Regions from separate parts of the Homo sapiens genome. Here regions 2, 3, 4, 5 and 6 are each linked to region 1. The links come from fine-mapping of genetic effects on gene expression. A gene starts in region 1. Each other region holds a variant in brackets. All regions are shown on one strand. Distances are from middle to middle. Region 1 holds the start of PDGFD (platelet derived growth factor D). Region 2 overlaps PDGFD (platelet derived growth factor D). Region 3 has its middle 71 kb from the start of MIR4693. Region 4 has its middle 110 kb from the start of MIR4693. Region 5 overlaps PDGFD (platelet derived growth factor D). Region 6 overlaps PDGFD (platelet derived growth factor D).

Region 1 (5,293 bases):
TTTCTGATCACTCTCCCTCCTTGTGAATGGTAATACCACAGAAATGTATATCTATTTATATCTGCTAGCCCTTTGAAGGAACACAGACCGTTGCAATATCTAAGATTGTGTTCACCCTCTAAGATCTAATTGCACCCCATTGGGGACAATATTGCCCCACTTGAAGAATGCATGCTCATTTAGGAAAAAGCTGCCATTTGAAAATTTTCTAAACTAACAATCCATTATGAATATTAACATTTTTTACTCTATATAAAACAAATTTTAATGTGTAACTACGTTTTTCTCCTTCCTAGTCTTGCTTGTAAGATGACATTGACATTGAGGAAAGTATTGAGCAATCAGAACTAATCAAAGAGAGTGTGTGTGTGTGTGTGTGTGTGTGTGTGTACTGTTAAAGTAACTGCAAAACAGTTTTAACTGAAATATGAAGAAATGAGAAATCCAGGGTAGTTTTTAAAGCTTTCATGAAACATAGCATTTCCCATATAGACTGAACAGATGTATGGAGATGTATAGAGTTTTAACAATGGAAACTAAAATGAGATTATTCTCTTTCAAAAAAAAAAAAACCTGCTGAGCTACATAACTTGGTTTTAGTCAGAATCTTGGGTTAATGGGCAATGGTTACATGCTTTTCATTTTCTGTCCTTGACTTCTTGTAACTGATACTTGGGAGGGTGAGGATTACAAAATTATGGCTATGAAGTCATGCAAATTACAAGTGGAATTTTACTCTATGTAGCTAAAAGGACATATAAAGTGCAACTAATAACAAACCTACAAGATCTGTCCCTAGTGGAAACATTAAAGAGTAAAGACAAAAAACCACACAGTTTGGTGTTGGGCCTAATCCTTAAGTGTAGTAAAAAAATAAATAAATAAATAAATTACGTGCTTTTAACTAAGACAGAGAGTTACCAAAAATGCACGGCTGGAATCTTTTACATAAAAACGCTATGAAAAAGTAAGATGACTCTGTGGCTTCCCCTGCTACAAATCTACACCACTTCAGGTGACGAGTACACTGATATCCATAGTCTACTCATCATCAGATAACATAATGAAATTTTGGTTTCCCTGCAAAGTCCAAAAGTCATTTAGTAAATTCCAAATTAAGGACATACCAAGAAAGAAACTGATAAGATGGCTAATAGGAATTTACCAAGACAGTCAAATACTGTCAGCTGAAACTGTGAAGCCATCAACAATTGCTTGATGGTCTCCTTGGGAGATGTGTTAGTACTTTAAGCAAGCAGGAGAGAAAGATACTGATGTAGGAAAAAACAAGATCCAAAAGCCTATGGGTCAGTTCAGGTACATGGCAGAACAGCTAAAATTTGCTGGGAACATCAGCTACAGTTTTAGGTGGAGGCCCCAGAAAGTAAATAAACTCAGCTTAGGGTCTCTGGAACCAGTGACCCAGGTGTCCTCTAGAGTAAAGGAAAACAAACAAGCTGGCTTGGGACCTTGCTTAGGACAGCTGTTTCAGGAGCTGTGCTCCTTGTAGATAATTGGAAGCCGCTTCTGCAAGGAAACTAGCAGCAGAAGCCTGGTGCCCCTGTGGTACTGATGAAACCCCAGAAGCCTTGGTCTCCTACACTCTGAGCTTCTGAGTCAGGGTGAACTTCAATAGGAAAGTCACTTAGGGGACCTAAAGGGCAATAGGCTGCACACTGCCATTTCCCGAAAATAAATAGTAAATTGTCACTGTTCCAGATATAACTGCTAGATTGAAACGCACGATTTCTCCTCTCACTCGTAAAAATAAATAAATAAATAAATAAAATTTAAATAAACGTCTATCACCCAGGGAAAGCTACTCTTGACTCCTTCCACCTATCAAAATTGCCTAAGAAAGGTTGAGTCTGACCAAGGGGCGGCGCAGCTTGCAACTTTCGCCAACTCCGGGATGAGGCACCGCATCCTGGTACCAGAGGCTTGGACACCAAAATGACTTCTCTAGGGTGCAGCAAGGTGAGCCACCTGGCTTATCCTATCCCCATCAGCACGCGTCCCACACCTCTCAGTCCCATTCCGGAAATGGAGCTCTCTCAGGACTGGATACAGGCAGGAGACCTCCCTCCCCAAACAATGCATTCAGCCCGAGTTCACATTCAAGATTCAAAAAGAAAGGGGAAAAACATAGAAAGAACAATAACAATAGCAAACATGATTTTTTTTTCAGTTAAAAAATAAAATGAGTCTCTTACCATCTCGCCTGAGGTTGGCGTTGCGCAAAGCTTTGATGGATGCGCTCTGCGGGGTTGCAGAAGTGTCCCGACAGCTGCAAAAGTTTGCGCAGATTAGAGTGTAGACAAAGATGAGCCGGTGCATTTGGGATCAGCGACTAGAGACAGCGTCGCTCCAAGAAAAAGCCGGGTTCTGCTCCCGGGACCGACGCCGCGCCGCCCTGCGCTCTCGCCGCCTGCGCTCGCCCTGCGCTGGCCCGGGTCGCTGTGCTAATCGCCGAGCTCTCCCCAAACTTCCTGCATGCTGAACTTTCCGAGCGCGTGTGGGTGCCGCACTTCCTTGTGGTGCTGAGCTGATAAATGGTGACGGGACAAACAACAGGTTGACGTTTGTTTGTTCGCCCCCTCCGGTGGCCGGCAGCTGCAGCACAGGCTGCAGGGGGCGGGCAGCGCCGAATCTAGCGGGGCAGGCGAGCGGAGCAGCAGCGTTCTCCAGCCCCGGCCGCGGCCCCTGAGAGGCGCGCACTCGGGCTCAGAGCGGCGGCGCGAGCACCTCAGCTCCCCAGTTTCCCAGGCCGGGCCTAAACCTGCTCTGCCACTGAGCATGCCCAGTTTAATCGCCGGCCGGGACTCTTCCCACCGCCCTGGGCTTTACCCTCCTGGTTGGACCTGTAAGGGCTCAGGAAACAAACTCGCCAGGAGGAAGTGGGAGAGGGTAGAATCCCAGCACTTCTTCAGAGGTGACTGGCACATCCACCCACAAGCCACAGCTCTCCGCCTTGATGGTGGTGGGATGTGGGGACAGGGACTGGAGTTGGGAGTGTTTATTTTACAATAACCAAAATGAGACTCTACTTAGTTAAAATTTCACTGTTTATAGTGAAAAAATACAATCACAAAGGAGCTTAATTCCGAGCTTTTCTTTGAGCTCCCATCAGTGTGACCTTTGGGTGAGTCAAGGGTACCTTTTCAGGGAATAAAATAAAAATAAAAGTATATCACCCAGAGAAAGCTACTCTTGAGTCCCTCCATCTATCAAAAATGCCCGAGAAAAGGTCGAGACTGATGGAGGGATGGCGTAGCTTTCACTTTTCGCGAACTCCAGGATGAGTCAGGGCATCCTGGTACCAGAGAGTATTGGACACCAAAATGCCTTTTCTAGGGTGCAGCAAGATGAACCACCTATCACACAGGGCTGTAGACGTGATGGGCCATGTGGTGCAGTGTACAATAAGGGCAAGAAGTCTTCACGAGCGTTTTTATATGCACTAGCTCCAGCCCTTCCACAGGAAAGGGCAACAGGACAGAGTGGGGTTGAGCAGGAACAGACTGAGCAAGGGGAAGAAGTTGCAGAACACTGTGCTCACTTGCCTTCACAGTCCATAGGAAGAGGCATGGGTCGTTGAGGCTTTTGGGATTCTCCCTACTCTGCGTCTGGAAGCTCAGCAGTTGAAAGGGGCTGCCTCTGGTTTACATCGTGTGTCTGTCTGCCCATGGGAGGGGACTGTATTTGGAAAAGGAATGAGTCCAGACTCGCTGCTCACTGGCTTTGTCCCCTTGAGCAAATCATCTGATCTTTCGAAACTCAGTTTATTTATTTGCAAGAGTAGCAATTGTTAATTTGTATGGTTGTGGTGAGAATGATGTGAAAAAATGTTTAGCATATTGTTTTGTTTGTAGCTGAATCCAAATCCAAATTTATATGATTTCTCAATTTTCCGCTGATGAGATCTAGAAGAGAAAATTTTCAGTCTTTTTCAGGCCTTCCAGCTCCTGAAAGTCTGGCATATGGTAAGTGATATCCATACATAGGGAACTTTAAGTGGCTGAGAAGGGCAGGAAGTTCTGGAAAAGGTAGCCTTGTCAAGTTATTATACCATCCAACAAGGACGAGGGTTCATGTGTCCCTTCAACATAGTCAAAGATCAACATGTTTCATCTCTATTGGCTTTTTGGCTTAAAATGGTATTTTACAAAATTTAGGTTTGTGGGCCATGAAATCAACTTCAATACCAGAATAATTGTTTAAATAAATGGATTGGAATACAATAGTTTAGAAATTTAATTATCAGGGTTCATTGGAGATAATAATATTGTTTTATGAATATTTTGTTTCAGATACACGAACACTACAATATAATAGTTATTTCTTTGGGGCATGATCAAAAAAGTTTGAAAGCCCCTGGAAAAAAAGATCTAATTACATTGTTTCAGGATATAGTGAAACCCTGGGAGAGACACTAAGGATCATTTATTCATTCAACAGGTATTAATTAAGCATTAGTTTTTCCCCTTGTGTTATGCCCTGGTCTAAAAATCTTGGGGATTAAATTGTGAACAAGAAATAAAGTTCCTAATCTCTTTGAGTTTACATTATAATAGAGGAAAGGGAACATAAACAAGTAAGTATGTAACTGTGTTAATAAGTGAAAAGGGGTAGAGATAGATGGGATAGGAGTAGGGACTAATTGAAATATGTGATATCGTTTTTTAGAAGTGGTTGGAAATGCTCATTCAATTTCATACTTAGCTTCTGATATGAGACTATAGAAAAACGGAGAAAATTTGCAAATGACTTATAATTATGTAATTATGACATGTATCAAGATACTGACTTATTACAAGTATCAAAATGCTAAAATTGTGTCTTAATATCTTATATAAAATAATGAATTTTAAATATTCAATGTAGTGTTTTCCAAGATACTAATACTTTGAGCTCCCAAGGCATTGTGAATTCATAATTTCAAATATTTTAGGTAAGAATAGTAAGGGATATCACATATAATCAACATGTTCTTGATCTTTAATGTCAGTAAATATCCAAAATCAACAATAAAACACAAATTAGGCACCTGAACCCAACCAATTATTCTGGACCTGGTTTTAAAATATCTAATAATTAATTCTTACTAATTAGTTTGATCATATCAACTGAGGTATCATTGTACACAGAATATTATTTAATAAAAATATTCTTTTAGTGAGAAAGGTCTGGTACAAAGATAGAAGATTGTTTCAATTTATTTTTTACATGTATCTCAGACTCACCAAAATAGTGAATTTACCACTACATTTTGAATGCTTATAGGTCAGTTAGA
Region 2 (5,293 bases), 200 kb before region 1:
TAAGCCAAAAGAACAAAGCTGGAGGCATCACGCTACCTGACTTCAAACTATACTACAAGGCTACAGTAACCAAAGCAGCATGGTACAGGTACCAAAACAGAGATATAGATCAATGGAACAGAACAGAGCCCTCAGAAATAATGCCGCATATCTACAACTATCTGATCTTTGACAAACCTGAGAAAAACAAGCAATGGTGAAAGGATTCCCTATTTAATAAATGGTGCTGGGAAAACTGGCTAGTTTGGGAATTTGTTCTCGATATAGTAAGTAAAGATTAGAGCAAATCCCAGTCCAGCAAGCTGAGAAGAGAAGGGGGTCATTGATTTAAAAGGGGTCATGAGAATGATATTCAAGAACTAGAGAGGATCAGCGTGTTTGCAGATAGAGAGAGGGGTGCCGCATACCAAGGGGCTGCACAGAAAGTTGCAAATTGCAAAATACTACTTTGTTAATAGCTTCCATGGTGTTTGGTCATACCATGGTGTTTGGTGTATGGTGTTGGTTCACCAACCTCCATGGTGTTTGGTAAGTGAACATTTAATTTACACCTAGAGAAATACTACAGTATTTCTACAATCTGTTGCCGAAGAGCTAGGTTCAGATTTAAATTTTGTGACTAGTTGTTTAGCATTAAAAAAAAAAACTCTGTGATTAATTATTTTGCAGTAACGCCTGCCACTTATGGAGCACAGATTTTATGCCGGTGACTATATGAAATACTTTCCATAAATTATCTCATTCATCATTTCTACAGTAGCTTTAAAAGATGAGGAAGCAGAAAGACAGGATGCAAGCCCTATTATTAAGGAAGTGCCACAGATACCTGAAACCGTGGCTGAGTCTCTGTACTCTTTCATCTTTGTTGAATAATTCCTCTTTTCTTTTATAAATAATCCTTTTTATAAAATAAACGAATCTTCTTGATTTGTGCTAAGTTCAGGTTTTCATAAATTCCTTAAATGCATTTCAAAGAGAACATCTGATTCAATTCACCAGTGGTCTGAAATTTATTAAAGATTGTACTTTTGATATTGCTAAGCTAATCTTAAAGATTGTTTATACCAAGCTAAAATGAATGACTTAGGAAATTATTCCTGCACCTTAGGAAAATTACAAGTTTGAAATGAAGAAATACTGACCTGATTCATATTTTCATTTTCTTGCAAGCACAGTGCCTGGTACATAGTAAGCACTCTTTTTTGTTTGTTTGGTTTGTTTTTATTATTGTGGTTAAGAGAGGAAATACTGTTTCATGCTCAGAATTCAACAAACCATTTCACGCCTCTGTGCTGAAATTCACACTCCCAATAACTGCTAAATTTCTCTGTACTTGACTGACGTTATATAAATAGATTTTCTTCATGGTGGCCAAAAGCTAGTTACATTATTAAAACCAGTAATTAGAGAAAATGGGAATTACAAACAGTATGAAGATTAAGGCCATGTCACCAAAATCCCTTAGCTAAAATCATTATCTCTAAAAACTCAAATTATTCCATTACTAATTAAAACTCCTAAGATCTGACTTTAGGGAGAAAATACCATTTGAAGTCTAAAAGCCAAAGCCACAGTCAACACAGCTGGTACGGTTCCATGAAAAAGAGCACTCATGAAATGTTACTCAGCAAGTGATGGGATTATAATGTAAACGGGAACATTTTCTAAGAGAATCAGGAGTGTCAGTTGTAAAGTATTAAAAAAGCTGTCCATTCTTTTTAAAAATATGGGTATTTCCTAGTGAGGTGACTTTGCGTTGTGACACCTTTTCCCTCTACACATTCATCCTTATCCTTACACTGGACCAGTGTTCATTCATCAGAGCTGCCACCCATCATAATTATCATTTGGCACTATGGGCCATACTGAATATAAAATATTTAAGAGTCATGTTACTACTATACAGCTATGTAAATGAAAACAAGTAATTCAAAGTACCTTTTTCTTGACCTGACTTCTTTCTAAGGGGATTTCCAGAGTCATTTATGTGGTTAAACTAGAGAGATGGTTAATGTAAAGTCTGAAACAAAAGCATAGGACTCATACCCTTGCAAATTACTCTTCTCACAAAAGGGGAGATTCGTATATTCTTGACTTTGTACTTCCTCTTTCCACTCCCCACTCAACTAGCAACTAACTAAGGCAGCTGGCACATTTTGGATCTCCAAAGCAGGCTTGCTATCTGGGCCCATTAGGTGAACTTGTTGGAACTGAGTGCCAAGCACACAGGTCGTGAGTTTCAGACTGTGCTAAGTACAGGTTTTCATAAATTCCTAAGAATTTATGACAGAGCTGATAAAACTTTACAAAGAGAAAAAATACTGTTGCCAAACACCATGGTTAACATCAGTGAAAGAGACCTCCTGGGGGCAACTGCCTGACTCAGTCCATAGGACTTCATCCCTCCAAGTAAACAACTTGAAGTCTTCTCCTCCAGGCTGGGAGGATCATTTTGGAATAGGATAAATGGTAATTAAATGAGAGATCCTGCAATTTAATTTCTATTAGTTCATGCGTATGGGCATTAAAAATTCCTTTTTACTTTTGGTTATCATCAGTTAACAGGAACATCTTTTACTTTGACCAGTTATTACACTAGCAATATTCATCAGCAGTTTTATGAGTGAAAACACTAGGCTTTGCACAGCAAAATTTTAATCCCAGATTGGTTCTTCTTTGCATCTTGCTATAATTTTTTGTACCGTTACATCTGTGTACTTAGAGAATGCAAATTTACTGCCATATTCATCCAAACCAAATACAATTACAAAGGTATTTTTGGTGCCAAAAAAAGGATAAACTGCATTCCAGAGTGAAAGGAAAAATAGGGATTGGGTGAACTATTGCTTCTCCTCTACTGGACTGGGAAAATTCAGAGCTGACTAGGTTATTGCCCACGCCCAAGGATTAGCTGAGATATTCTTTGGACATGGATTTTTTTTGGCAGGCCTCATGCCTCACACTTACACTTTAAACTGTTATTTACTTATGTATTTATTTTTTATTCTTACCAGTTTGGAAGTTGCAAGGGATCTCATAGACTACTGAGTTCAAAGTTTTATTCAC[T/C]ATTTGACTGAGATTTTTGAATGACCAAAGTATGTAAGTCATTGAGCAAGGTGTTGGCTAATGCATGGATGCACAGGAAGCAAAATTGACCTTAAGAAATGTGTTGTCTAGATTAATTCTAATGTCCTACTCTTGTCATTCCTTTTTGTATCAGCAACTTTAAGTTTTTTAATGGCTTACCATTATCTCGAATTATCTTGTGTCTTAGTCAGTTGGAGCAGCTAGAACAAATTCCCATAGGATATGTAACTTGTAAAGAACAGAACTTTATTTCTGACAGTTCTAGAGGATGGGAAGTCCAAGACCGGAGTGCTGACATGGTTGGGCTCAGGTTTGCAAATGGATGTCTTCTTGCTGTGCCCACACATGGTAGAGAGAGAGAGAGATCTTTTCTCTCATGTCTCTTCTTACAAGGGCACTAATCACATCAAGATGGCTCCACCTTCATGTCTTATTTACCTCCCAAAGGCCCCACTTGTCAATACCAACAGAGTGGAGATTAGGATTTCAACAGATGAGTTTAGGGAAAACCCTCACATTCAATCCATAGCATCTTATTCACTTATTTCTGTACTTGTTTCCAGGTTTGTGTCTCTCCATTAGGGTGTAAGCTCCTTAAGGGTGGAAATGTTTTCTAACTTTCTCATTGCTCTCCCACCAAGTACCTACAACAGGGCCTGTTAACCTTTTACATTCAATAAATAGTGTTGCAATGGAAGAATGACTAGTCATTGAATTGCTGTGAGATTCAAATGAGATGAGTAATGTAAAGTCATAGCATATTGGCTGTTACATAGCAGATGTTAATAAATATTTGTAGAATGAATAAATGAATAATCCAATCTATAGAAATAAATGCTCTACTGGGGCCATAAGCAAAGCCCCATAGTTCTACAGGAGAAAGAATGATTTAAGTACATTTAGGAAGGCTGGAGGAAGGTCTCAGAAGAAGTGGCCTTGGAATTGACTTTTGTATGATAATTAAGGATTTTGATAGGGAAGCAGGCAGGTGAAGGAGAAAGCATGCACTAAGGCAGAGACTGGCATCATCTGGGATCTGTGAGTATGTCATGTGCCCAAAGTAACAGACAGGAAATTAGACTGACAAAGAAGGTACAAGACAAATCAGAGGATCCTGAAGACCACACTTGGGATTTTTTCTTAATCATCTATTCAGCGATTCATTTAATCATTTGTTCAACAGGTATTTATGGCTTCCACTACTACTGACTACACAGTTCAAGGTACTGGAGAAAAAGAAACAAAAAGAACTTCAACGTCACTGCTCTCACAGAGCTGTCATCCTGATCACCCTTTTCCTACATACAGGAAACAGCCCCAAAGGGTTAAGTGTCAGCGTCACTTGCCAATTAGTGCCTGCAGCCCAGGTCTCTTGACATACTGTACTGCATTACACTAAGTTGTAGGAAACTGGTTGTTAATATAGCCACATCTTCACCTCCTCTGCTCACATGTCTCCTTTTCAGTGCATATGAAAAATACAAAGAACATTTTTTTATAATCTGGAATTCAGTGAACTTAAGTAACATAATGGGGTTCCTAGGAAACCAACAAGAAACAACAGATAGCTATTCAGGGAAATGAGGGTGGTGGAAAAAAATTGAAGACAAGGAATTCGGTGCCGTTGGTTTGGAAAAACTTTTTGAAATGTCCATAATACTTTAAGGCAATCTTAGAATTAGGAGTCATTCCTTATTTTGGTAATCAAACCCCTCAAATGATAATAACATTTTCCACTCAAATACAATTTAGTCCTATCTTATCCCTCAGCAGGGTACAAAATTACCTTTCTTTTTCAAAGAAGAGTTAGAATGTTTTCCTGATCAGAGGATTCAATAGATGAGAATCCCTTAAGTACTTTATGATGACCCTTGAGGTTGGTCAGCAGGAATTGATTTGGAGGAATTACTAAAAGCTATGTCTAAACCCAGCAGGGATCATAAAGATGCTTGAATACAAATGGCCCTGGATGGCTTTCATCAAAGGATCTCTGAGTACAAACAAAATAAAAGCAAACTCCATGCCTGTAAATGAAGAGGAGGCAAGTTGAGAAACTCTTTTGCTACTTATCTTGCTAATATGAAATATCCTGCACTGTTTTGGATGGTAGAAAAGATTTGATAATCACCATGTGAAAACATTTTTAAAAACTGATGTTGGAGACAGAGCACTCAATTGAATTACATATGGAACACCGACTGTGTGA
Region 3 (5,293 bases), 390 kb before region 1:
CTGGTCTTTACTGTAACTGCCTTTTAAGTTGCCGGTCATTGTAGGTAGAAATTATTTTGAAGGAGGTTCCCAATGGTGAAAAGTCTCCTAGATGCACCCTTTTACATTCCCACCAGCAGTACAAGATTCCAGTTTCTTCACATCCTCACCAACATATAATCTTTTTTTTTTTTGATAATTGTTATCCTAACAGGTGTAAGTAAATATTTCATTGTGGTTTTGATTTCCATTTCCCTGATGTCTGGTGATATTGAACATCTTTCCACATACCTGTTGGCCATTTGTGTCTGCTTTGGATAAATGTCTGTTCAAGTCTTTTTCTCATCTGCTAATTGGGCTTTTGTCTTTTTGTTATTGAGTTGAAGAAGTTCCTTATATATTTTGCATATTACCTATTATAAGATGCATGGTTTTGAAACATTTTCTCCCACTTCTTGGGTTTCTTTTTTTTTTTCACTGTGTTGATTGTTTCCTTGCTGTGTAGACTTTTTTTTTTAGTTTGATGTGGTCTCCCACTTGTCTGTTTTTGCTTTTCTTGCCTTTGCTTTTGGTGTCATATTAAGAAGTCATTGCCAAGACCAGTGTTATGAAACTTTTTCCCTATGTTTTTCTCTAGGAGTTTTACAGTTTAAACCTTAAGTTTTAGCCTGTAATCATTTTGACTTGATTTTTTTTGTGTGTAATATAACATAAGGTACGATAAAATGTTACAGCTACAATGGAAAACATTATGGATGTTCCTAAAAAAATTAAACATAGAAATACCTCTTGGTCCAGCAATCCTATTTATGGGTATATCTCTGAAAGATTGGCCGGGCGCAGTGGCTCAGGCCTGTAATCCCAGCACTTTGGGAGGCCAAGGCGGGCTGATCATGAGGTCAGGAGTTTGAGACTAGCCTGGCCAACAGAATGAAACCCTGTCTCTACTAAAAATACAAAAAATTAGCCAGGTGTGGTGGTGGGCGCCTGTAGTCCCAGTTACTTGGGAGGCTGAGGCAGGAGAATCGCTTGAACCTGGGAGGCAGAGGTTGCAGTGAGCCGAGATCATGCCATTGCCCTGCAGTCCAGGCGACAGTGCAAGACTCTGTCTCAAAAAAAAAAAAAAATCTGAAATCAGAATATTGAAGAGATATTTGCACTCCCATGTTCATTGCAGCATTAGTCACAATAAACAAGATTTGGAAACAAACTCAATGTCCATCACGGTATATATATACAGTAGAATATAATTCTGCCTCGAAAAAATAGGGAATCCTGTCATATACAACAATATAAATGAAGCTTGAGGACATGATGCCAAGTGAAATAAGCCAGTCACAGAGGAACAGGTACTGTATGATACCACTTATATGAGGTATATAGAATAGGCAAGCTCATAGAAACAGAGAGTAGAATGGTGGTTATGAGGAGCTGAGGGAGGGAGAAGTAAGAAGTTGCTATTCATCAAGTATAACGTTTCAGTTATGCCAGATGATTAAGTATACATATCAGCTGGACAACATTACACCTATAATTACCAATACAGTGTTGCACACTGAAATTATTTTTTAACAGGGTAAATTTCATGTTAAGTGTTCTTACCCTAATAATATGCATATAAATTATCTTGGTAAAATTCTGATTCTGATTATGAAATGTTTGCAGTGGAGCCAAAGAGTCGAAATTTCTAGTAGGCTACCAGGTGATGCCAATGCTGCTGGTCTGTGGACCATACTTTGAGTCACAAGTGTTTAGTAGGGGTTGACAAATTATGGCCCATGGGCCAAATCCATCCTGCCACCTGTTTTTGGATGACTCAAGAACTAAGAATGATTTTCACATTTTAAGATTATTTTTAAAAATCAAATGAAGAATAATATTTTCTACCACATAAGAAATATATGCAACTCAAACTTCAGCATCCATAAATAAAATTTCATTGGAACGTAGCAACACGCATTCCTTACAGTTTTGTGAATGGCTGCTTTTGTGCTACAACAGTAGACTTAAGTAGTTGCAACGGGGGCTATATGATTTGCAAAATCTGACATATTTACTATCTGGCCTTTTACAGGAAAAATTTGCCAACTTCTGGAGTAGAGGGTAACTTGGATTGTCAAAGAAGTAAATATTATCCTCCAGGGTTTCATTTTATTTTTTTCATTGCTATCAGCTTCTCACAGCAGCAGCCTTCTGCCTACTGGCATTTCTCACCAGACTCAAAGAGTTTGACCCTCTCTTTTTTTTAAGGCACGATGCTGGGCACATCAAGTTTGAAATGTTATGTAAGTCAGAGTTTACAATGTTATGTAAGTTAGAGTTGCAACATTATATAAGTCAAAGGCTCCTCTTGTGGGAATTACTGACTGGACTGTGTCATTTTCCCTTGCTCTTGTTCAGCCTCACTCCATCATACTACCAGATGTGCTCATACACATGGATGTTGTCTAATGTGCAGAGGAAAACTTTGCTTTAAAGTTTAGAAAACAAAAACAAGTAATTCTATTTATTAACATTATTTGAAAATGGACATTGAGATCTATGTATTTCTACCAAAAAACAGATTAATGTAACCTGTTTTAAATGAAATAATGAAATGGGTCTGTAGAACTTGCATCAGCATGAGAGCTTGCTATCCTCAGATAAGACCCTTAAATCCAATTCTTTATTCATCATGGAGTCCCAGTTTTACCCCTACCATAAGGGAAAATGACTTAAGGTTTCTGCCCACCTCTTTCACCAAAGTTTGCAAGTCTGAAGTGGTGAAAAACAAATTACAGCCACTAAATAAAATTTAAAACTGAAAAATGTGAGAAAAATTACTGCAAACCAGGCCCTGTAAGTCTGTTCTTCTGAGGTTACACAGGGCTGCCTGCAGGTACACTAAGATTCTTCTTCCTTGTTCAAGGGGATGACAAAAGCTCTGTCATACATAGTGGTTATTTTGAAAATATGTCAAAAATTTAACTTATGAAAAGTCCTGAATCATATCTAAGTACATAAGCCTGGTTTAGTTATTCTTCCTAATGGCTCCAGGTTAAGA[C/A]TAGTCAACATAATTTTCTCTGGTTTGGGGGATAGTCAGGAAACCATGGCTGCTGCCTTCAGTGGTGCGTTCTTTATTATTTTTGGCTCCTAACAACCATAACTGGTTCAGACATGTTGACCTAATCTAGCCATAATAGGGCAGCTTCCTACCAGCTCAGTCCTTATAGAAATTAAGGTGTTAAGAAAGATTGAGTAACCCACATTTCTCTGTGAGCTCTTGTTTTCATAAGTATACACTGATTTTTGTTTCAGGTACTTTCATGGTTAATAAAATTGTCATTTAAAAATAAATAGAGTAAAAATAAATAAAAATTTAAAATTATTTATTAAGTAATTCAGGTACTCATTTGGTACAATAGCCCTATGAAATAAGTTGATTTTTCCATAATGGTTCAATACATTACTCAAAGTCATGCAATTATTTCATGGAAGAGACAAAATTCAAACCCCAGGCTCAATGACTCTGGAACTGATACCCTTTAATTTGAATGTATGTTTTTTCCTGACAGAGTAACTCTCAAATCCCATTGTTAGAGTCTGCTGTCACATAGACCTGGAAAATTCTACAGGCTGTCTCCCCTTCTTAAAGAGTCATAATGTATACCAGCTTATTAACAGCTCCAGGCTTATTAATGGCTTCCCTATATAAATCTATGTATATTTGTTTACTCCCACATTTCTCAAATTTATTTTCCCACTGACCCCATCCTCCTACCACTACCTTTCTTAACACTACGACTAGCAACAATCTGCAAAACACATTTTGGGAAATATTGCACTAAGTCATTCAGGTCCTGTTGTTGATACTGTAGGGATGTGAAATCAATTGAGAGAAAATATTCCAGGACAAAGAGAGAGGGAGGAGAGGGAGAAGAAGAAAGAAGAAGAAGAATAAGAAGGAGAAGAAGGAAGAGTAGGAGGAGGAAGAGGAAGAGGAGGAAGAGGAGGAGAAAGAAAATAAAGGAGAGAAAACAAGAAGAGAAAAAGAAAAAAAGAAAATGCTATATCGTGACTGAATTGAAACATGGAAAGAGGGAGGAAGGAAGGACATTCTTCTGGCAAATCACTCATTTATATTCACTAATATAAATGGAATTTTTAATACTTCAATATTTTGTAGCAATTAATAAAAAAGGTTTGGCAAGCAGCCAGAACATCTTTCAGCTTGTTTTAAGTTCCTGATGGAGGGACACCAAGATTCAGAAGACACAGCCTTTTTCCTCTATGGGATCATAATATATTATAACATAAAACACAAGGATACAGATAGTATCAATAGCACAGACTGCATGACAAGTGCCCCTGGAAATGTACAGGGTTCAAACTTGGGCTCTATAAATTCCTAGCTTGTGTCCTTAGGCAACCTACTTAAACTATCTGTGCCTCAGTTTCCTCATATGTAAAATGATAATAATAGAATAACCTACTTCATAGGGTTGTTGTGAAGATTAAAGTACTCAGAACATTCCTGACATACAGTATGCTTTATAAGTGTCGATTATTATTATTATTATTATTTTTTTTTTTGAGACAGAGTCTGGCCCTGTCGCCCAGGCTGGGGTGCAGTGGCGCGATCTCAGCTCACTGCAAGCTCCGCCTCCCGAGTTCACGCCATTCTCCTGCCTCAGCCTCTCGAGTAACTGGGACTACAGGCGCCCGCGACCACGCCCTAGCTGGGACTACAGGCGCCCGCGACCACGCCCGGCTGATTTTTTTGTGTTTTTAGTAGAGACGGGGTTTCACCGTGTTAGCCAGGATGAATTATTAAGTTTTATATCACTATTTTGAAACAAATTCGTAAAAAAATCAGAAATCTGAGAAACAGAGAAAATCCCTAGGAATGCCATGAAAGAGTAAGATGGATGAAAGCAGAAGTGCATGACCTCTGAGTAACCAGTCTCACAGGTTTGTCCCAAACTGTGTGTGAAAAGAAGGAAGGCTGGGCAGAATTCAGCATTTGAATGGCTGGAAGGAGCTGCCATTCTAGAATTGGTATTTGGCAGCATATAGAAAGTAACCAGGAAGACCAAATATCCCAAGGATTGTGGCTAGAGCTGTGAGCAGACTGAGCTGGAAGTGGAATGGAGGGAGATAGACCATGAAGAAACAGCATGCTTACAATGATCCAAGATATTGAACTCACCTACCCTTTACTGTCAATTCAGTAGTTTTGCACTGAATTGACATATCTGTATTGCTGCATATCTGTAAGGAGAGGAGGAGGAATGCAAAGCCAGAAGACCACTGTGCAGTACAAATGTGGAAGAGA
Region 4 (5,293 bases), 420 kb before region 1:
AAACTCTCAATAAATTAGGTATTGTTGGGATGTATCTCAAAATAATAAGAGCTATCTATGAAAAACCCACAGCCAATATCATACTGAATGGGCAAAAACTGGAAGCATTCCCTTTGAAAACTGGCACAAGACAGGGATGCCCTCTCTCACCACTCCTATTCAACATAGTGTTGGAAGCTCTGGCCAGGGCAATTAGGCAGGAGAAGGAAATAAAGGGTATTCAATTAGGAAAAGAGGAAGTCAAATTGTCCCTGTTTGCAGATGACATGATTGTATATCTAGAAAACCCCATTGTCTCAGCCCAAAATCTCCTTAAGCTGATAAGCAACTTCAGCAAAGTCTCAGGATACAAAATCAATGTACAAAAATCACAAGCACTCTTATACACCAATAACAGACAAACAGAGAGCCAAATCATGAGTGAACTCCCATTCACAATTGCTTCAAAGAGAATAAAATACCTAGGAATCCAACTTACAAGGGACACGAAGGACCTCTTCAAGGAGAACTACAAACCACTGCTCAATGAAATAAAAGAGGATACAAACAAATGGAAGAACATTCCATGCTCATGGGTAGGAAGAATCAATATCATGAAAATGGCCATACTGCCCAAGGTAATTTATAGATTCAATGCCATCCCCATCAAGCTACCAATTACTTTCTTCACAGAACTGGAAAAAACTACTGTAAAGTTCATATGGAACCAAAAAAGAGCTCTCATCGCCAAGTCAATCCTAAGCCAAAAGAACAAAGCTGGAGGCATCATGCTACCTGACTTCAAACTATACTACAAGGCTACAGTAACCAAAACAGCATGGTACAGGTACCAAAACAGAGATATAGAGCAATGGAACAGAACAGAGCCCTCAGAAATAATGCAGCATATCTACAACTATCAGATCTTTGACAAACCTAAGAAAAATAAGCAATGGGAAAAGGATTCCCTATTTAATAAATGGTGCTGGGAAAACTGGCTAGCCATATGTAGAAAGCTGAAACTGGATCCCTTCCTTATACCTTATACAAAAATTAATTCAAGATGGATTAAAGACTTAAACGTTAGACCTAAAACCATAAAAACCCTAGAAGAATACCTAGGCATTACCATTCAGGACATAGGCATGGGCAAGGACTTCATGTCTAAAACACCAAAAGCAATGGCAACAAAAGCCAAACTTGACAAATGGGATCTAATTAAACTAAATAGCTTCTGCACAGCAAAAGAAACTACCGTCAGAGTGAACAGGCAACCTACAAAATGGGAGAAAATTTTCGCAACCTACTCATCTGACAAAGGGCTAATATCCAGAATCTACAATGAACTCAAACAAATTTACAAGAAAAAAACAAACAACCCCATCAAAATGTGGGCGAAGGACATGAGCAGACACTTCTCAAAAGAAGACATTTATGCAGCCAAAAAACACATGAAAAAATGCTCGCCATCACTCGCCATCACTGGTTTGATTTGATGCAAATCAAAACCACAATGAGATACCATCTCACACCAGTTAGAATGGCAATCATTAAAAAGTCAGGAAACAACAGGTGCTGGAGAGGATGTGGAGAAATAGGAACACTTTTACACTGTTGGTGGGACTGTAAACTAGTTCAACCATTGTGGAAGTCAGTGTGGCGATTCCTCAGGGATCTAGAACTAGAAATACCATTTGATCCAGCCATCCCATTACTGGGTATATACCCAAAGGACTATAAATCATGCTGCTATAAAGTCACATGCGCACGTATGTTTATTGCGGCACTATTCACAATAGCAAAGACTTGGAACCAACCCAAGTGTCCAACAATGACAGACTGGATTAAGAAAATGTGGCACATATACAACATGGAATACTATAAAGCCATAAAAAATGATGAGTTCATGTCCTTTGTAGGGACATGGATGAAACTGGAAATCATCATTCTCAGTAAACTATTGCAAGAACAAAAAACCAAACACCGCATATTCTCACTCATAGGTGGGAATTGAACAATGAGAACACATGGACACAGGAAGGGGAACATCACACTCTGGGGACTGTTGTGGGGTGTGGGGAGTGGGGAGGGATAGCATTAGGAGATATACCTAATGCTAAATGACGAGTTAATGGGTGCAGCACACCAGTATGGCACACGTATACATATGTAACTAACCCGCACATTGTGCACGTGTACCCTAAAACTTAAAGTATAATAATAATAAAATAAAATAAAATAAAAACAAGGAAAAAAAACAATTATTGTACTATTTTTCCAAATTTGCTTAACATTTGTATAATGGTGAAAAATTTTTAAGTGTTTTTACATACATTGTTTCAGATAGATAACTCGTTACTTTAGTGTTGTCGTAATTACGTATTATGTAACACAAAGTAATAAATTACCCTAATATAATTATATTGTAGGTGGACAGGCTCAGTTAGGTGGTTCTTATTTAGAGTCTCAAATAGGTACAGTTAGAACTTGGCTGTGGCTTGAGGCATCTGAATATTCCACCAGGCAATATTACCAAGGTGGCTTCTTAGGACACATTTTTTTTTTGAATTCTTATTTTGGATTTACAGGGTACATGTGCAGGTTTGTCACATGAGTGTTTTGCATGATGCTGAGATTTAGGGTGTGGATGATCCTGTCACCAAGGTATTGAGCACAGTTCCCAGTGGATAATTTTTCAGCACACACCCCCTTCTCTTCCTACCCCTTATAGTAGTCCCGAGTTTCTATAGTTCCCATCTTTATGTCCATGTGTACTCAGTGTTTAGCTCCCACTTATAAGTGAGAACATGTAGTATTTGGTTTTCTATTTCTGAGTTAATTTGCTGAGGATGTTACTGCACAGGACATGATTTTATTCCTTTTATGCCTGCGTAGTATTTCATGGTGTATACATACCACATTTTCTTTATCCAGTCCACCATTGATGTACACCTAGGTTGATTCCATGTCTTTGATATTGTGAATAGCACTGTGATGAACACATGAGCGCATGTGTCTTTTTGGTGGAATGATTTATTTTCCTTTGGGTATATAGCTAGTAATGGGATTGCTGGGGTGAATGATGGTTCTGTTTTAAGTTTTTTGAGAAATTTCCAACTGCTTTCCACAGTGGCTGAACTAATTTGCATTACCACCCACAGTGTAAAAGC[A/T]TTCCCTCTTCAGAACCTTGCTGGCATCTGTTCCTTTTTCACTTTTTAATAATTGCCATGCTGACTGGTGTGAGGTGGTATCTCATTGTGGTTTCGATTTGCATATCTTTGATGATTGGTGATGTGGAACGTTTTTCTATATGCTTGTTGACTTCTTTTAAGAAGTATCTGTTCATGTCCTTTGTCCATTTTTGATTACTTTTTTTTCTTGTGGATGTGTTTAAGTTTCTTGTAGATTCTGGATAATAGACTTTTGTCAGATACACAGTTTGTGAATATTTTCTTATACTCTGTGTTGTCTGTGTAGGTTGTCTGTGTAGGTTGTCTGTTTACTCTGTTGACAGTTTCTTTTGCTGTGCAGAAGCTCTTCAGTTTAAGTAGATCCTACTTGTTGATTTTCATTTTTGCTGCAATTGCTTTTGGGGACTTAGCCATAAATTCTTTGCTAAAACTCATGTTCAGGAAGGTATTTCCTAGGTTTTCTTTAGGATTTTTATACTTTAAGGTCTTACATTTCAATCTTCAGCCCATCTTGGGTTAATTTTTGTACATGGTGAAAGGTAAAGTTTCAGTTTCATTCTTCTGCATATGGCTAGCCAGTTATCCCAGCACCATTTATTGAATATGGAGTATTTTCCTCATTGCTTATTTTTTTCAACCTTGCTGAAGATCAGATGGTTGTAGATATGTGGCTTTATTTTTGGGTTTTCTATTCTGTTCCATTTGTCCATGTGTTTGTCTTTGTACAAGTGCTATGCTGTTTTGGTTATTGTAGCCTTATAGTATAGTTCAAAGTTGGTTAATGTGATGCCTCTGGCTTTGTTCTTTTTGCTTAGGATTGCTTTGGCTATTTGGGCTCTTTATTGACTCCATACACATTTTAGAATATTTTTTTCCAATTCTGTGAAAAATGACATTTGTATTTTGATAGGAATGGCAGTAAATCTGTAAATTGCTTTGGAAAGTATGGTTGTTTTAATGATGTCAATTCTTCCACTCCATGAGCATAAAATATTTTTTTATTTGTGTTGTCTCTGATTTCTTTCAGCAATGTTCTGTAGTTCTCTTTATAGATATTTTTCACCTCTTTTGTTGTATTCCTAGTTACTTTAATTTTTTGGTGGTTATTGTGAATGGAATTGTGTTTTTGATTTCGCTCTCAGCTAGGATGTTATTGGTGTATAGAAATGTTACTGATTTTTGTACATTGCTTTTGTATCCTGCACATTTACTGAAGTTGTTTATCAGTTCTAGGACCCTTTTTCACAGAATTTTTAGAATTTTTAAAGTATAGAATCATATTGCCAGCAAGAAGAGAGAGTTTGACTTTTTGTTTTCCTATTTGGATACCTTTTATTTCTTTATCTTGTCTGATTGCTCTGGCTAGGACTTTCAGTGATATGTTGAAGAGAAGTGGTGAGAACAGGCATCCTTGTCTCATTCTAGTTTTCAAGGGGAATTGTTCCAGGTTTTGGCCATTTAGTATGATGTTGGCTATGAGTTTTCATAGCTGGCTCTAATTATTCTGAAGTATGTTCTTTGATGCCTAGTCTGTTGAGGGCTTTATCCTGAAGGGATTTTGGATTTTATCAAAGGCTTTCTTTACATCTATTGAAATGATCATATAGTGTTTTTTTTGGTTCTGTTTATTTGAATCACAATTATTGATTTGTATAGGCTGAACTACCTTTGCCTACCAAGAATAAGAGCCTATTTGATCATGGTGAATTAACTTTTTGATGTGCTGCTGGATTTAGTTTGCTAGTATTTTGTTGAAGATTTTTGTGTCTATGATCATAAGGGATATTGGCCTGAAGTTTTCTTTTTTCTCTGTGTCTCTTCCAGATTTTGGTATTAGGCTGATGCTAACCTAATAGAATGAGTGAGGGAGGAGCAATTTCTTTTTTATTTTTTTGAAATAGTTTCAGTAGAATTGGTACTAGGTCTTTTATATCTGGAAAAATTTGTCTTTGAATCCATCTGGTCCAGGGCTTTTTTGGTTGGTAGGTTTTTAATTACTGACTCAATATCAGAACTTGTTATTGGTCTACTTACATTTTCACTTACAGATTGTGTTTCCAGGAATTATCTATTTCCTCCAGATTTTCTAATTTGTGTGCATAGAGGTATGCATAATGGTCTCT
Region 5 (5,293 bases), 230 kb before region 1:
CCCTGTCCTCAAAAACTTCCTTTGGACATACTGGTAAAGTGTGGGGTGCTGCACAGTGCACAGGGGCGCACTTTTCCTTCTGCAGCCCTGCCTCTAGGTGCAGCCTAATCACAGAGGTGCTTTGAGATGTAATAAGAATGCTGGGATCTGAGCTCTAGAATGGGGATGTGAATGCACACCCTTTTATAGTTTCTAATATTAGGTGTGGGAGGAAGGAGAGTCAACCTGTTCTTTTTGATCCTGGCCATCTAGACTACTAAGTGCTGTGTTCATCATGAGTGCATGAAATACTCATAAATGCTATGAATTACATACAATCATTACTCTTACTTTTGCAGTTGAGGAAACTGAGCCTTTCAAAAGTTAAGAAAAAAAAAAAAAAAACTTGTCCACAGCCATACAACCAGTCAGTGGTAGAGCCAGAGTTTGAATCCAGGCCTCTTCATGCCTTTTGTACATTATGAGCCCAGTGTAAAGATTTGAAGGAGGGTTCAGAGAGCAGCTTCCACAAGCGATGCTGAAGTCTTCCCACCAGAGGACCACTTGCTGTGCAAATGACCTGGCTTCCTAGGTGCACCCATAGGCACTAACCTGTCATTTTCACAATGTCATTAATACACATACCCAAGCACGAGCAGCTGTGTATCCTCATCCACCTATTCAGTTCTGACTAATAAACCAGGCAGCTATTCAGAGTCTACTTTTGTCTTTGGTATTGTGATAAAACATTTCGTCCTTTTATCTGAACCGAGTGGACTTTGGCCAATGCACACTCTTCCTTTTGTCCTCATTTCTCCTTGAACCCTTTCTTGCCTCATCTAGGAGCTGAATGGATTGATAGCAATGATTTGTCCTCAGTGGGAACAAATGCCAGGATCCTAAAGATTCTAGTTTCTGTAGGACAGATAAAACCAATATAATATTTCACATACTTGGCAAGCACAACATGGGTGGTGATCAGCTTAAGATAAAAATTTAAAAATCTATTCCTTATTAAAGTGAAACATATTTATTATTTTATACAAGTTACCTGTTCTGGTGGACAGAAGTCCAAAATGTGCCTTACTGGGTCAAAATCAAGGTATGTAAAGGTAAGTCTGTTTTTGTGAATACAAAAATTCATTATGAAACAAAATAATCTCCTCACTTTGAACATGGGAAAGCACCTTTGTTCTCCACATGCACAATAATTTACTGCTTGTTTTGGTCAACAAGAGGATGGTTTCCTTGAGTCAGTCTCTAAACATTAAGTTATCAGTTGGCTTTCACTGTGCTGGCCATTCATCAATCTTTATTCTGATAGTAGAATCACATGCTTTTTTCTCTTGATCATCCACAGACTGTCAGAGAATCCAATTAAACTGCTGCATGTCCTTGAAGACAGTCAGTAATCTTTTTCTTTTCTTTTCTTTTCTTTTTTTGAGACAGAGTCTTGCTCTGCTGCCCAGGCTGGAGTGCAGTGGCATGATTTCAGCTCACCATAACTTCCGCCTCCCAGGTTTAAGCAATTCTCCCGCCTCAGCCTTCTGAGTAGCTGGGACTACAGGTGTGTGCCACATGCCCAGCTAATTTTTGTATTTTCATTAGAGATAGAGTTTCACCATGTTGGCACCAGTAATCATTTTATTGTTGTTACAAGGTCTAGCCTTTATAATGCTAAAGTTCTTTATAAACTCTTAGCAGGCATGCAGCAGCAGCCTACATACTAGTGCATATTTACCACATGGTGATGGCATGTGGAGAATGAGCACTCAAAGTAGGGCCATGATGTTTTTGAAAACCATGCTCTTGTTCTTCTGTTTTGCTTTCTCTGGCATCTCAGCTTGCTATATTATTTTAATCTTCTAGAGCTCAAGTCAAAAGGCATATTCACTCTACATCTCCTATGACTCCTTCTCTATGTACTCACCACACTTTTTCTGCCCTCTATTATAGCATTTACTTCATAGACCTTGTTTTGTTTTCTTTGCAGATAGTCCAACTTACAATGGTTCAACATGAGTTTTTTTTTTTTTACTTTTTGATGGTGCTTTCAGCTGTGTATGTTAATGGTGAGCACCCATAAAACCATTCTGTTTTTCACTTTCAGTAAAGTATTCAATAAATTATATGAGCTATTAAACCTCTATTATAAAATAGGCTTTGTGGTAGATAATACTGACCAACTATAGGCTGATATATGCGTTCTGAACATGTTTAAGGTAGGCTAGGCTTAGCTACGAAGTTCAGTAGGCTATGTGTATTGAATGTGGTTTGACTTAACTATATTTTCCAATTACAATGTGTTTATTGGGATGTAAACCCATCAAAAGTTAAGAAGCATCCATATTCAGGTGCTTCTCTTCTATTGAACTAAAAAAGTTGTTGGAGGTAGAGAGCTAATCATCTTTTTATCCCTTCTCTTCTAGTACTTTGTCCCTAATGTAAGGACCAAATGCAGCTCATTCAAGCTCACTTCTAAAACCATTTGACTTCAACGATTAGGAGCAAGGTGCTGCTGAAGGAAGCACAACATCGTCTTTGTGCCAGATTCCCTTTGCAAGAAATAGACACTCAATAATTACTACCTGAATGAATCAGATAAACCATGGATTTTTTCAGTTTAATTTTTTATCACAAAGGTGAAACAATTCCAACTATCTTTCAGGAATGCATAGAGTATTATTAATACTTTATATGTTGAATGTTTGGATCTTATCTCAAGACTAGTCTAGGATGTGGTGTAGTGCGAAAGTGTTAGGTTAGAATTAAGAAACTAGGATTTAGAACCATCTCTGCCAAGGATGAACCAAGATGCATGAGATGACTGGCACCAAGATCTGTGAAATATAGGAGTGGCACACATGGTAGAGCATGGTCTTGAGAAGACTGGTTCTCAGATGCAAACATCAAGGTGCTAAGGAACATTGCCTTTGTCAAATGGGAGACAGTGCCATAATCTGTTATGAAAAGTGCTAAACATTTCCCTTTAATGTTGCAGCACCAGGTTTATGATGCTTTGGGGTGGGGTGGGAGGTGAGGGGACTATAGGAATAATTGTATTATTTTTGTTAAACAACCAGGGGCTCTCAGCCTTTCTCAAGGTTCATAAGTTCACCAGGAGTCTTCATCCTTATGAATATTACAACCTCACTGTGATTTTCAGA[A/G]TCCCTCTTCTATAAATCAGCACATAATTATGAAAACTGTTTTCACATTTCAATCCCAATGCAGAAGTGCAAATAAATCTGGAAAGGACAATTATTTTATAAGTTTTAATGAGGGACTATCAGGATACTTTAACTTAAAATTATGAAAGACACTGAATTTTGTGACTCCACATGTGGGTTTAACATCTAAAGAATAAAAACATTTACCACTTGTTTTTACACAAATTAACCTAAATCACAGCAAAAGATTCTTAATCAGACAATTCCTGATTTTCAAGGTTTAGAAGCATTGTGAAGCAACGAGTGAATGCAAACTTACTGAGCAACTACTATGTATCCAGCACTTTGTGAGATGCTTTCACAAAATCAAATTTCATTTAATTCTCACAGCAAACCCTCATCTTAGATATTACAATTCCCATTGGATGGATGTAGAAACTGAGTTGCAGAGGACTTAAGTGACTTGCCTAAAGCCACTGGACGTAAGTAGATATTCAGCACATATGTACTGGAAAATCAATGGATGACTGAATGAATATCTGGAAGGCACTGAATTAGCCATGAAAGCAGTAACACCATCATAAAGCCATTCTCTGAACCCTGGGAATTCATGACCTGGGGTGATGTATAAAGCATATCTATGAAATGAAAAATTTTTTAAAAAACAAGTTAGGAGATGAAGGTCTTAAAATTTCTTGTTCTCATTTACTAGACTATGAATCCCTGAGCTTTAAACACCATTGAGTTGCTCACAGCATGAGCTTTGCAGCCAACAAGGCCAAGTTCATGTCATGATTCTCTATTTTCTAGCTCTCACAGAAACTTTCTGAATTTTTTTCTTTTACTATGCAAAATGGGAATCACAGTAGCTCCTGCCAAGGAACTTGTTAAGATTAAATGAGTTTTGAGTGTTTGAAGCACAGGTCTAAATCCTACCTCTCAGTAGGTATGCCCACATTATTACTGAAGTGAGTAACACAGATCAAAGAAGGAAGTTTAAATCAGAAGCACCTAAAACTAGAAGGAGCTGAGATTCTGTAATTGGTGATTACTAAGGAATAGAAGGCCATGCCCACCTTGAACTAAATACAAAAAGCCAATGATCAGGTGTCTTCAGTTTGATTACATCAGACGTAACACTATCCTTTGCAAGTGTATTAGTCCATTCTCATACTGAGATAAAGAAACACCCAAGACTGGGTAGTTTATAAAGAAAAGAGGTTTAATGGCCTCACAGTTATGCATTGCCTGGGAGGCCTAAGGAAACTTACAATCATGGCAGAAGGCGAAGGAGAAGCAAAGGCACGTCTTACATGGTGGCAGGAGGGAGAGCATGTGTGCAAGTGTAGGGGAACTGCCCTTTATAAAATCATCAGATCTTGTGCCACTCACTCACTATCACAAGAATAGCATGGGGAAAACCATCCCCATGATTCAATTATCTCCATCTTGTTTCTCCCTTGACATGTGGGGATTATGGGGATTATGGGGATTGCAATTCAAGATGAGATTTGGGTGGGGACACAATGCATAACTATATTAGCAAGTAAAGACACTCAGTGAGTTGGATCTCTCAGCACCAGCAGGGCCTACAAGCATATATGCTCTAGGAGCAGTGTAGTGTCTCCTTAAGTCTAGTGGGGCATAAAGGAAAACAATCCCATAATAATTTTCCAATGCTTCACAGAAAAAAATTAGCACAGCAAACACAAGGAACACACATTTCTCTTTAACAAGAGTAATTGCAGTGGAAAATGCACATTTGTTCATCCGACGCTAAAAGTTACCTATGGCTTTCCACTGTCAACTGGATTTTTCCTATTGATTTGCATTTGAATGACATGCCTAGATGAGGGGAATAACTTTGATAATGAGGGTGGGGTTAGGATATCCACAAAGACGGACAACTGCGTCTAGGATGAAAGCAGAGGTGGCACAGGCACCAGGAGGAAAAACAACTGAAAGTTGTCCCACTGCTGAGATTTTCTTAAAATATTTCATGTGTGTGCCCTCATAGACACACACAATATGATAAACAACAATATGGTTTTTATGAATGCTTGCTGGCAAACAGAGTAAGTGAGGCAGCTAGATACTTACAAATCATATGAGTCATAAACAGTGGCAAAAGTCTCTAAAAGAAAAGC
Region 6 (5,293 bases), 100 kb before region 1:
GAGGTTTGAATGGCACATGAGCACATAAAAAGATGCTCAGCATCATTAGTCATTAGGAAAAAGCAAATCAAACCCATAATGATATATCAAAACACATCCACTAAAAAGACTAAAATTACACAGCAACAACGAGGACAACAGGCAACAGAGAATGCTGGTAAAGATCTGGAACTCTCATGTATTGTTGATGGGAATGCACAAAGGATCAGCCACTTTGGAAAATAGTTTGGAAGATCCATATAAAGTTAAACATACACTTACCACACTCATAGGTATTTATGCCAAGGAAATAACAACACAGAGCTATACTCACATGTTCATAGTTCATGGTAGCTTTATCCGTAATAACTAAAAACCAGAAAAATTTAAATGAGCAAATGCCCATTGAATGAATAAACCAAATTACAGGAGTTTCATATGATGGAAAACCTCTCACAATAAAAATGAGTGGACTATGGATACATTCAACAACGTGAACGAATATGTAAAGCATTATGCTAAGTGAAAGAAGCGAGACACACAAGGCTGTATACTGCATGATTCCATTATATGATACTCACAAAAATGCAAAACTACAAGGGCAGAAAACAGCTCAGTATTGCCAGAGCATGAGGATAGGGGAGGGGATCAACTACAGGGAAGCACCATGGGACATGGGCCATTTTCAGGTGACAAAAATATTACAGATCTTGATTGTGGTGGTGGTGACACAACTGTTCATAATTGTCAAAACTCAACCTGTACAACTGAAAATGGTGAATTTGACTCTGTGTACATTATACTTCAATAAATCCATCTAAACAAATTTCAATGGCAAAAAAGAGTATTTGGAGCTAGGGAGTTTCACAGTGGCTGTAAAATACTATTTGTGTTTTTGAAGTTGTGTGTTCTTCAAAATGTCTGACATTCCTAAGCAAATATAAATCGTAAACATTCCTAAATAAATACAATCTTCATATGTAACTTTTACTTAAAAATAAAAAGCCTTTTTCTTAATAACTGTCAGCAATTTCATTAGGACATGATTCTTAAATATCTTTATATCTTTATCATCCATTATTTTGATAAACTAAATACAAAGTATCTTTTTACAAATGTAACATCCCTCTCTCCCCCAAGTGAACATTTTCCATAAATATTTAGCACTAGATTGTTACAGTATTGTTATTATTTTAAGATCAGTTAATTCAAATCCAACTCTAATTAATTTATTGACCTTTTCCAATTTACATTATAAAAACTCCCACTTTTAAGCATTTCTCAGGTGCCTTTTTCTTCTCTCTCTTCTGAGGTCTTGTCTGCCTAAGGAACAACTAATCCTTCAAAACTGCTTGAACAGCCTTCCTCCCTGAAGACTCTGCTGTTGTTGATTCACCAATTTCTTCCCTGCATTTCAGGTCAACTAATCCGTTTCCAAGATAGTACCCCTCTGACATTTATTTGTCTCTTCTACTAAAATGAGAACAGGATCTTAGCTTATATATCTTGATTTTCCTAACCTCTAGCAAACTGGCTAACACCTAGAAGGCTTAAACACAATTTTGCTTTGAAAACAAATCATTTTGAATATCAGTTGTCATTTCACTGTATGGGAGATTTAGCTTCTGCAAGGGATTGGCCTAAATGGGTGATAGCCTGAGGAGAAACATCAGAATGAAATGGTATTTGAAGGACAATACACTAACTCCTAATTTGATTTTGCTTGTTTGCCATTTGTTTCTGTTTGATAAGGGCATTGTGTCATCTCAAAAGACCGACTAATGGGGGTTACATCAGAAACATTCACTATTACAGCAGCAAAGGATTGTACAGATCCACTGTGTTATGAATTACATTTTGACAGTGTCTTGGCATCTTCACTTCTAGATCTAGGTTTTGTCCAGATCAGCAACTCAGAGAGGTTCCAGGTGTCCACATATGCTTGGGTGTAATGTCTGACTCATGTGGCTTCCTCTTTCCTGGGCTAGGCTTTTCCACTGTCTTGGACAAGGTGAGCATGCTTCTCTGGACCAGGTAGCTGGCCCAGAGGCCTGGAGGAGTACAGTCCTATTTATACTGGGCCTGGGTACACATCTGGGTGGGATAAGCATAGAGGGTATCACTGTTTTCTCTCAGTGCAGGGGTTGGGAAGGGTTGAAAGGCTGCCCCTGGGTTGCTAATTCAGATTTAATTATAGTGCCCATTGTTAAATTCTGCATAAGTTTGTAGCCAAGGGGAATTCTGTCTGGCTCATTAGGAGACATTCCTGTGTATACTTCTGTTTGTCCAGCTTAGTAGCAGAGTGAAAAATGCTTGATATCTTTTTACTAAATGAATGAACAAACCTATGATGTGCCAACCCTGTTTCAGGAGGTACGTCTCCCATATGGTGCTTCTGTGCGTGTATTTTTTAACAGCTTTATTGAAATACCACATAACTCATTCATTTAAAGTACAATTCAAATGTTTTTGTATAGTTCACTATTATTTTTAAAAAACTGGAGTAAAATATACATCACAAAATTTGCCATTTTAACCACTTTAAGTGTACAACTCAGTGGTATTAATTACATTTACAATGTTGTGCAACCATCATCACCAACTATTTCTAATTTTTCATCACTTCAAACAGAAACTCTACAACCACTAAGCAAAACCTCCCCATTTCCTCCTTCCCACAGGCCCTGGTAACCTCTAATCTACTTTCTCCGTCTATGAATTTGCATGGTGTCTGGCTCATTTCACTTATAATGTTTTCAAGGTTTATACATGTTGAAGCACATATCAGAACTTCAT[T/C]CCTTTTTACAGCTAAATAATGGGTCAAAATATGAAAGGTAAACTGTATAGTTTATAGAAAATAACAGAGTATATCTTTATGACACTAAGTAAGAAAATAATTCTTAGCCATGACATTAAAATGCTAGTCAAAAAGGAAAAAAAAAAGTGTTAAAACTGTATCAATTAAGAATGTCTGTTCTTTAAAAGACACCAAAACATGTACTGAAAAAGCTAGTCACAGAGTAAGAGTAGATTTTGCAACCCATATAACCAATGATATGCCAGTATTCAGAGAAATATATTTGAACACCCATCTAAATCGGGAGGGAGCGGGCAAAAAAGACTTAACAGATGCCCTAATTTTAAAAGCGATCAAAAATCTGTTCCATTAACAGATGAATGGATAAACAAAATGTGATATATTCATCCAATGAAATACAGTGTGTGTATGTTTGATACATTGCAAATTCAGTGTTTTTCTTTCTGTTTTTTGTTTGTTTTCTGTTTCTTTGAGACAGTCTCTCTCTATTATCCAGGCTGGAGTGCAGTGGCGTGATCTCAGCTCACTGCAACCTCGGCCTCCTAGGTTCAAGCCATGCCTGCCTCAGCCTCCTGAGTGGCTGGGATTATAGGTGCATGCCACCATGCCTGACTAATTTTTTTATTTTTAGTAGAGACGGGGCTTGGCCATGTTGGCTAAGCTGGTCTTGAACGCCTGGCCTCAAGTGATCCGCCCGCCTTGGCCTCCCAAAATGTTGAGATTACAGGCTTGAGCCACCATGCCTGGCCGTTTCTGGTGCTTTTGCCATTTCAAGTGGTTACAACTCGAAGAAGTTCAAGTAGGTACTGACCTCTGCTATCTTAGCATACTTTTGGCTTGTCTATGCCTCTAGTTTCTATTCTCGTTTTTCTCACGTTTCGTGGAATGTTTCATAATTGAGACACCATCCCCTCTAGTCAAGCCTAAGCTTTTCTGAGTGGGAGGGGAGAAGAAGGGACAGCTTTTCAATGACATTTTGTTTGCAATAGGAGATAAAGGGTAGCAACTTCTGACTCCATCTGCAACAGTGAACATCACCTGGTTCCCAGACAGCACCCAGTGTTTCTCTCTGTCACACAGAAACAGATACCTTCAACCAGCATTCCAGTTACAACCTTGGGCAAGTTCTTCCTGGGATATTTCTCAACCCTGTTCTTGGCCACAGAAAAGGCAAATTCCTCCATCTGTTCTTTCTCTGCATGTCGTAAGATCTGGCTCTTCCTATCTTTCTTCCTTGACTCCGTCTAATAAAAAGACTTTTCTGAACTCGAAGTATGTGAAACTGCATAACTGGTGCTATCAATCTGATATAAAATGGCCCATTTAAGTTTTGAATTACAAGTTTTTTTGTTAGGCTGCAAAAATATCCAAATGGCAGCTCAATACCTCAGAATACGTTAGGAATAATTACTTATATTAATTCAATATATTTATTCATCCACTTAAATCTTGAGTTTATTGCAGTAGTAACCAAATGAGAACTGACATACAAAGAGAATACATTATTATGCTACTACAAACATTGTCTGAATTGCTGCAGTTAAAAATAAGTAAATTCAAAGCTACTTCCTGGCGACAAACAGGGATGTTTGAAAATTCATGTTAAGGGAAGAAAACAAAAATGCCTTTAATCAGATTAATCACCATTTTCCACAACAGATATGCTAATGAATTTGATGATCAGATATGCAGCCTTCTCTAGAGATACAAATATAGAGTAACTGTCAGTGCTATTAATTTTATCTCCCATGTATTCCTGTGAAACGTTGTGAACCTCTATCTTCTCTGAACCACAATAAAATAAAACAAAAAATCCTCTAATTTTGAACCTCCACAGTTTTGAGTTATATAAACACTGAAGAGCTTCTCCTCAGATCCAGTAAACTAGGGCAATTGCCCCAAGCTCCAAGCTTTGGAAAGAACTGGGAGACATGAATTCAATTATGCTGCTAAATAGTACAGAATGAGGACAGGCTTTTGAGGTAAGGAAGGTAGTTTTCTACTAAAGCAAAAGATTTTGACGCCTTTCTACAAATACACATACTCAGGCAATACATACCAATATCATCATCAACATTAAGGTAAAACAGGAAATCTCTATAAGAGTCCTTTACTGATTCATCTTACCTTCTATGATGCTGTTTTAGACGTGTGTGTGTGTGAGAGAGAGAGGAGAGAGAGAGAGAGAGAGAGAATTTACTTTGATAAACAAGCAGAAGAGGAATTAATCTGGGTTCTGCAATAATTAGGTTATCCTGGGAACATCATTAAATCATAGACTTCTGAACTTTAAAATCAGAGTGGATTTTTAAAATCACTAAATCCAGCACCATCAAAAATTATGTTACCTGAAAGCAGTAGGTGTATACCTCAAGGGGATGTATTAGTCCGTTTTCACACTGCTATAAAGAACTACCGGAAACTGGGTAATTTATAAAGAAAAGAGGTTTAGTTGACCACAGTGCCACATGGCTGGGGAGGCCTCAGGAAACTTAC

The links. PIP is the estimated chance that this variant, and not a neighbour inherited with it, causes the effect. A credible set is the group of variants that fine-mapping cannot tell apart.
Region 2: its variant is the best candidate, but not a certain one, in a credible set for the expression of PDGFD in whole blood (INTERVAL, PIP 0.75).
Region 3: its variant is the best candidate, but not a certain one, in a credible set for the expression of PDGFD in lung (TOPMed, PIP 0.74).
Region 4: its variant is the best candidate, but not a certain one, in a credible set for the expression of PDGFD in whole blood (INTERVAL, PIP 0.87).
Region 5: its variant is the best candidate, but not a certain one, in a credible set for the expression of PDGFD in whole blood (INTERVAL, PIP 0.76).
Region 6: its variant is the best candidate, but not a certain one, in a credible set for the expression of PDGFD in lung (TOPMed, PIP 0.63).

What each region holds. Positions count from the first base shown.
Region 1 is chr11:104,161,591-104,166,883 of GRCh38, forward strand. PDGFD (platelet derived growth factor D) reads right to left here and starts at 2,557. Exons shown (of 7, transcript NM_025208.5): 1 at 2,214-2,557. The coding sequence starts at 2,337.
Region 2 is chr11:103,957,417-103,962,709 of GRCh38, forward strand. The region is part of intron 3 of PDGFD (platelet derived growth factor D); the gene reads right to left. Among named protein-coding and RNA genes, the nearest start is that of PDGFDDN, 53 kb to the left of the region's middle. The variant T/C (reference allele first, on the strand shown) is at 3,067.
Region 3 is chr11:103,776,239-103,781,531 of GRCh38, forward strand. No RefSeq gene overlaps it. Among named protein-coding and RNA genes, the nearest start is that of MIR4693, 71 kb to the right of the region's middle. The variant C/A (reference allele first, on the strand shown) is at 3,023.
Region 4 is chr11:103,741,492-103,746,784 of GRCh38, forward strand. No RefSeq gene overlaps it. Among named protein-coding and RNA genes, the nearest start is that of MIR4693, 110 kb to the right of the region's middle. The variant A/T (reference allele first, on the strand shown) is at 3,150.
Region 5 is chr11:103,930,184-103,935,476 of GRCh38, forward strand. The region is part of intron 5 of PDGFD (platelet derived growth factor D); the gene reads right to left. Among named protein-coding and RNA genes, the nearest start is that of PDGFDDN, 26 kb to the left of the region's middle. The variant A/G (reference allele first, on the strand shown) is at 3,147.
Region 6 is chr11:104,058,362-104,063,654 of GRCh38, forward strand. The region is part of intron 1 of PDGFD (platelet derived growth factor D); the gene reads right to left. Among named protein-coding and RNA genes, the nearest start is that of DDI1, 24 kb to the left of the region's middle. The variant T/C (reference allele first, on the strand shown) is at 2,776.